Linked DNA regions of Homo sapiens. The protein of the gene in region 1 purifies or fractionates together with the protein of each later gene. This does not show direct contact. Each region holds a gene or a part of one and is shown on either strand. Other genes may lie near its edges. The genes, in order: PRORP and PALD1.

Evidence for each region.
Region 2: the proteins of PRORP (region 1) and PALD1 purify together in Homo sapiens (co-immunoprecipitation; one large-scale study listed by IntAct). This does not show direct contact.

What each region holds. Positions count from the first base shown.
Region 1 is NC_000014.9:35,129,037-35,132,851, forward strand, and holds part of PRORP (mitochondrial ribonuclease P catalytic subunit isoform 1 precursor), read left to right. Parts: intron 1-3,815.
Region 2 is NC_000010.11:70,481,509-70,485,323, forward strand, and holds part of PALD1 (paladin), read left to right. Parts: exon of another isoform or gene 1-1,556; intron 1,557-3,815.

The DNA.
Region 1 (3,815 bases):
AAATACAAAAAAAAAAAAAAAATTAGCTGGGCATGGCGGCGCACGCTGGTAATCCCAGCTACTCGTGAGGTTGAGGCAGGAGAATCGCTTGAACCCAGGAGGCGGAGGTTGAAGTGAGCCGAGATCACGCCATTGCACTCCAGCTTGGGCAACAAGAGTGAAACTCCATCTCAAAAAAAAAAGATGCATATTTAGGTTGTTTATTTTAAGTTTTTCTTCTGTTTTGATATAGGCACTTATAGCTGCTTTTGTTATATCCCACCGTGCCTAGATACATTTAATGTTATTATTGATAAGTAAGGACTTAGTCCTGCCATTTTGTTTTCTGGTTGTTTTGTGGTCTTATTTTTTCCTTCCTTTCTTCCCTTTAGTGAAGATGATTTTCTCTGGTGATATAATTTAGTTTCTTGCTTTTTATTTTTTGTGTATCTGTTGTATTTTTCTTTTTTTTTTTTTGAGATGGAGTATTGCTCTGTCGCCCAGGCTAGAGTGCCGTGGTGCGATCTTGGCTCGCTGCATCCTCCACCTCCTGGGTTCAGGAGATTCTCCTGCCTCAGCCTCTTGAGTAACTGGAATTACAGGCGCACACCACCATGCCCAGCAAATTTTTTTTTTTGTATTTTTAGTACAGACAGGGTTTCACCATGTTGGTCAGGCTGGCCTCGAACTCCTGACCTCATGATCTGCCTTCCTCAGCCTCCCAAAGTGCTGGGATTATAGGCGTAAGCCACCGTGCCCAGCCTTGTATGTTTTTTGATTGGAGGTTACCATGAGGCTCACTAATACTTAACTATAGCCTATTATTTTAAGCTGATAATAATTTAACACTGTATAAACAAACAAGCAAAAAGAAAACTAATAAAAACTCTACACCTTTACTTTGTCTCCCTGCTTTTTAACTTTTTATTGTTTCTATTTATATCTTACTGTACTATCAATGTCTTGAAAAGTTATAGTCGTTATTATTTTTGATTGGTTCATTGTTTAGACTTTCTTTTTTTTTTTTTTTTTTGAGACGGAGTCTCGCTCTGTTGCCTAGGCTGGGGTGCAGTGGCACAATCTCAGCTCACTGCAGCCTCTGCCCCCCAGGTTCAAGTGATTCTTCTGCCTCAGCCTCCCGAGTAGCTGGGACTACAGGTGCCCGCCACCATGCCCGGCTAATTTTTTTGTATTTTTTAGTTGAGACGGGGCTTCACCATGTTAACCAGGATGGTCTTGATCTCCTGACCTCATGATTTGCCCGCCTCGGCCTCCCAAACTGCTGGGATTACAGGCGTAAGGCACTGCCTCACTAAACTCATTGTTTAGTCTTTCTAAAGATAAGAGTAGTTTTAGTTTACACACCATAGTTACAGTGTTATAATATACTATGTCTTTTTGTGTACTTATTATTAACAGTGAGTTATGTACCCTCAGATGATTTCTTATTGCTCATTAATGTCCTTTTCTTTTTTTTTTTCATTGAGATGGAGTCTCACTCTGTCGCCCAGGTTGGAATGGAGTGGCACGATCTCAGCTCACTCCAACCTCCGCCCCCACTGGGTTCAAGTGATTCTTGAGTCTTACCCTCCCAAGTAGCTAGGATTACAGGTACCCTCCACCAGACCCGGCTAATTTTTGTATTTTTAGTAGAGACAGGGTTTCACCATGTTGGCCAGGCTGGTTTCGAACTCCCAACCTTACTTTATCCAGCTGCGTCGGCCTCCCAAAATGCTGGGATTACAGGTGTGAGCTACTGCACCCGGCCTATGTCCTTTTCTTTCTGCCATTTTTTTTTTTTAAATATAGAGACAGGGTCTTACTATGCTGCCCAGGCTGGTCTCAAACTCTTGGGCTCAAGTGATCTTCCCACCTTGGCCTCCCAAAGTGCTGGAATTATAGGCGTGAGTCACCAGAGTAACGGTCCTTTTCTTCTTCTTCTTTTTTTTTGAGGCAGTCACTCTGTCGCCCAGGCTGGAGTGCAATGGCGCGATCTCAGCTTACTGCAACCTCCGCCTCCTGGGTTCAAGTGATTCTCCTGCCTCAGCCTCTGAATAGCTAGGATTATAGGCGTGCACCACCAGACCTGGCTAGTTTTTGTATTTTTAATAGAGACGGGGTTTCACCATGTTGACCAGGCTGGTCTTGAACTCCTGACCTCAGGTGATCCACCCACCTCGGCCTCCCAAAGTGCTGGAATTACAGGCATGAGCCACCACAGCTGGCCATCCTTTTCTTTCTGATTGAAGTACTCCTTAGCATTTATTGTAGGATAGGTCTGGTGTTGATGTAATCTCTCAGCTTTTGTTTGTCTGGGAAAGTCTTTATTTCTCCTTCATGTCTGAAGGATATTTTCACTGCATATACTATTCTGGGGTAAAAGTGTTTTTCCTTCAGCACTTTAAATATGTCATGCCATTCTTTCCTGGCCTGTAAGGTTTCCACTGAAAAGTCTGCTGCCAGATGTATTTTAGCTCCATTGTATGTTATTTGTTTTTTTCTCTAGTTGCTTTTTGGTTTTTTTTTTTTTTGAGACAGAGTCTTGCTCTGTCACCCAGGCTGGAGTGCAGTGGTGCTATTTCGGCTCACTGCAACCTCCACCTCCTGGGTTCAAGCGATTCTCCTTCTTCAGCCTTCCGAGTAGCTGGGATTACAGGCATCTGCCACCATACCCAGCTAATTTTTATATTTTTAGTAGAGACAGGGTTTCACTATGTTAGCCAGGCTGATCTCGAACTCCTGACCTCAGGTGATTCGCCTGCCTCAGCCTCCCAAAGTGCTGGGATTATAGATAGGTGTGAGCCACCACACCTAGCCAATCCTTTCTTTTTTTCTTTTTTTGAGAAGAAATCTCACTCTTGTCCCCTAGGCTGGAGTGCAGTGGTGCTATTTTGGCTCACTGCAACCTCCGCCTCCCAGGTTCAAGTGATTCTCCTGCCTCAGCCTCCCAAGTAGCTGGGATTACAGGCACCTGCCACCACGCCTGGCTAATTTTTGTATTTTTAGTAGCGACGGGTTTCACCATGTTGGCCAGGCTGGTCTCGAACTCCTGACCTGAGGTGATCCGTCCGCCTCGGCCTCCGAAAGTGCTGGAATTACAGGCATGAGCCACTGCGCCCAGCCCCAATCCTTTCTTTATCCGTTGAAGGTTGGATTATTCAACTGGGTGTGGTGGCTCACACTTGTAATCCCAGCACTTTGGGAGGCTGAGGTGGGTGGATCAGCTGGGGTCAGGAGTTCGAGACCAGCCTGGCCAACGTGGTGAAACCCCGTCTCTACAAAATATATAAAAATTAGCCAGGCGTGGTGGCGGGCCTCTGTAATTCCAGTTACGTAGGAGGCTGAGGCAGGAGAATCGTTTGAACCTGGGAGCCGGAGGTTGCGGTGAGCCAAGGTCACACTACTGCACTCCAGCCTGGGCAACAAGAGCAAATCTCCATCTCAAAAAAATAAAAAACAAGAAAAAAAAGAAAGTTGGATTATTCGTCCAGGCATTGTGGCTCACGCCTGTAATCCCAGCACTTTGGGAGGCCGAGGTGGGTGTGAATCACCTGAGTTTAGGAGTTTAAGACCAGCCTGGCCAACATGGTGAAACCCTGTCTCTACTAAAAATAAAAAAAAATTAGCTGGAAATGGTGGTGCGTGCCTGTAATCCTACCTACTCGGGAGGCTGAAGCAGGGGAATCATTTGAACCCGTGAAGCGGAGGTTGTAGTGAGCCAAGATTGCGCCACAGTACTCCAGCCTGGGCGACAGAGTGAGACTCCATCAAAAAAAAAAAAAAAAGGGAAGAAGGAAAGGAAAGGAAAGCAAAGCAAAGGAAAGGGAAGGAAGAAG
Region 2 (3,815 bases), on another chromosome or scaffold:
TAAGTGCCAGCAGGTGCTCTTTGAATTTTGATTCTCATCTTCCCTGGATCTCCAGAGGCTTCCTGAAGTGAGGCTGTGTGGCCTGGGTAGGGTGCTCCAACTGTTCCTTTCCTACCAGAATAGGAGAGGAACTGTCTGGGGATTCTCCTTCTGAACCCAAGCCTGCGGGTCTTTGACAGGGATCCCCCAGGTGAGAGAGAGAGCACACATGTAGCTGCGTCTGTGATGAGAGCCACTGCCCTCTGGGGCGGGCTCCTTCTCTGCTAAGCCGTGGGCTTGCACAGGGAAGGGGTCCCCCACCTGGCTATGCTCAGGTCTCCTCTGCCCAACCTGGCACCTGAGAGACAGCCCAGATTCTAGATATGCTTTGATACTAATGCACCATGCAACCTCCAGCAAGTCAATTAATGTATTGGTTTCCTCATCTTTAGAGTGGGGTCAGTAACCTCTACCTCCTTGTGGGTTCAGTGGGAGAAAATCAGTGCAAAGCATGTGGCCCAGTGCATGGCATGGAGTGAGTGCTCAGTTGATGTGGCGGTGGGGGCCTTTGATTATGAGCCATCCCCTGTGGCCAGGACTCTGCAGGGCTTCCTCAGCAGCCAGGTGCATGGCCCTGGGCCTCTGGGTGAGGTCTGGAGCAGGCTGGGTGGGCCAGGCACCTCTCCTGTGAAAGCTGGAGGGCTTTGTCCTCAGTCGGTGCCCACTAGTCCCTCCTTAGCCCTGTGGGACCTCCATACACGGGGTCAGGAAATGGCAGGCTGGGCGGGCGTATGGAAGCTTGGGCCTGCTGACTGCTGGGCCTCTGGGAGGGGAGCCAGTGTTTGCTAAGAATAGTCCCAAATCATGGCTTTCGTTTCCCAGAGGGCAGCCCAGCCATGTGCTGCCCCTGTCTTGGGCCAAGGCACTTGCAGATGGACTTTTTATGTTTCCTGTAACTGGTGCTCAGCACAGGATTGAGCCTGGGAGCAGCAGGCTTAGTCTGGGAGGAGGCTCTGTTTGTCTTCCGAGGCCTTTGGCTGGGACCCGGGGAAAGAGAAGGTCTGGAAGCACTGGCCTTTATAATCCCTGAGTTCCTTTTCCACTCAGGGCTTTTCCTGACACATCTGCCTCGACCATCTTCCTACCTGCAAATAGACCTGTTGTGATTAAGAACACTGGCTCTGGAAAGAAACTACCAGGGTCTGAATTTCTGCTCCCTCCCTCATTAGCCATGTGGCCCAGGGCAAGAAACTTAACCTCTCTGTGCCTCAAGTCCCTTGTGTAACAGGGTTAAGGATAGCAACTCCCTTATGAGAATGTCACAAGGATGAAAGGAGGTAATCGCAGAGAGCCTCCGAGGCTGTCTGGCTCCTAGGAAGTACTCAGTAAACATTAGGTGCTTATGTTATTACCACGATGTTATTCTCTCAGCAGAGGCCAGGATGCTTGCACAGGACCAGTTGGTGGGAAGGGACCAGCGTGGCATCTTGATGTGGGTTCCTGAGCTTTCTTGGCCCTGGGTTCAGTATGAGGTGCAGGGGCTCCGAAGGTAGATTAAACTCTGTCCCTGCCAGGAGGTGAGTGAGGTACATGCAGACACCATGTCTGGTTCTGTGATGGGGTCTGTGCTAGTTATGGTTGGAGCCTGAGGGAGGGAATGGCTGGCCTGGGGTGTGTGTGATACTTCACGTGGGCTTTGAGGGATGGCCAGGAGTTTGCAAAGGAGGAGGGCAAGGCTTCCCCAGCAGAAAGAGCAGCGTGGCAGAGGTGTGACAGCCCTTGTGAAGCGTTTTGTGTATTTCCCATAACTGGCATGTGGGCTGACTTTGGCTTTAAGGGGTGCCCCTGCCTGGGCTGAAGCTGGGGCACTGATGAGAGAGGCAGGTGGGGTGTCTGGGTCATCTGCACACCCATGGAAGGCAGTAGAGAACATCTTTGGGAACTGGGTGTGTCACTGCCAATGCTTTGGGCTCCCAGGGAGCTGGGGCTTTCAGAAATTCCCCAAGGAGAGAGGATGTGGTGCTGTGAGGGCTGTGGGTACCCTGGGAAACGGCCAACAGGCTGGGCTGGGGCCCATGGGAGGGGAGAGGGGTGGGTGCCCTGAGATGACCTGGGACCCTGCCAGCTTCTGCATCCTGCTGAGCCCCAGGCCCTTCCTCTCTGTGGGCTGTGCCGGCCTCTGTCTGGCCTTCCCAGAATGGAGGCCTGGGACGCTGGGACATTTTTCGAAGATTCTGTTTGGAAAGCACAGAAGGGACTTCTCCTCCCCTTTTCCTTTTCCTGGAATGGAGAATCTCCTGAAGGAGTTAACCCCTTTCCTGCTGGTCACAGAGTGGCCCATGGATGTGTCCCCGGCTTTTTTTAGGATCACTGTTTTATTGTTGCCCTTTCTGTTACACGGGATGTATACATCAGGTGCTGAAAGGTACAACACATTCTGCAACTGAGTGCCACCTTCCATGATTGAACAGGCAAAGAAAGTACACTGAACATCAGCATCTGGCAATATATTTTTTGTTTGTTTGTTTTTTTTGAGATGGAGTCTCACTCTGTTGCCCAGGCTGGAGTGCAGTGGCGCATTCTTAGCTCACTGCAACCTCTGCGTCCCAGGTTCAAGCAATTCTCGTGCCTCAGCCTCCTGAGTAGCTGGGATTACAGGTGCCCACCACTACGCCCAGCTAATTTTTGTATTTTTAATAGAGATGGGGTTTCACCGCATTGGCCAGGCTGGTCTCAAACTCCTGATCTCAGGTGATCTGCCTGCCTTGGCCTCCCAAAGTGTTGGGATTACAGGCATGAGCCACCGTGCTCGACCCCAATATTTTTCTAAAAAAAGACTAAAATGGATTTAAATTGATTAACACTGTTAAATCACGTCTAATATTTGATACTACATGATTCAATATAGCTGAATGATGCAATGATAGAAAATGTGTTTACATCAAAGAATACAACCAAAATTAAGATAGCAAACAAAACCCATATACTTTTTTTAAACAGGAAAATACTTTTGAAGTGTACATGTAACTGCCCATTCTTTTATTTTATTTTATTGTTTGTTTTTTTTTTTGAGACAGAGTCTCGGTCTGTTACCCAGGCTGGAGTGCAGTGGCGTGATCTCAGCTCACTCAAGCTCCGCCTCCCGGGTTCAAGCGATTCTCCTGCCTCAGCCTCCTTAGTAGCTGGGACTACAGGTGTGTGCCACTATGCCTGGCTAATTTTTGTGTTTTTAGTATAGATGGGGTTTTGCCATTTTGACCAGGTTGGTTTCAAACTCCTGACATCAGGTGATCTGCCCGCCTCGGCCTCCCAAAGTGCTGGGATTACAGGCATGAGCCACTGCGCCCAGCTGCAACTGCCCATTCTTTTAAAGAAAATTTACTGCAAGCAAAGTTATCAACCTTCAGAAAATGCACACATAGTATTGCTAAGCATCCCCCATTCCAATATGCACACTTGGAAAATACAAAGTTAAACAAATTGTAAACAATAGGTGAGCTTCATATTTTTAAGAATATGGAAAGAAATCCCATTTTTAGCAGTGTTGTACAAAGAACTGTCTTTTCATGTGAAATTCATGAATTGTCCTTCTGTTGGGATCATACTTCACAAAACCACCATGTTTTTGAAACAAGATTACAGAGTACGAACATCTTAGCAATGTTATCTTATTATTAAAGTTAAATTTTTTTTTTTTACTATTTTTCAAAACATCTCCCTTAAGTATGTAGGATTCATCTTTAAAATTCTTCCTAGAAATAATATACAAAGGAGAGGTATGTTTATTCCCTGTTATACTTCTGGAAGGCACTTCCATGGTGGAGAAGGGGCTTCTT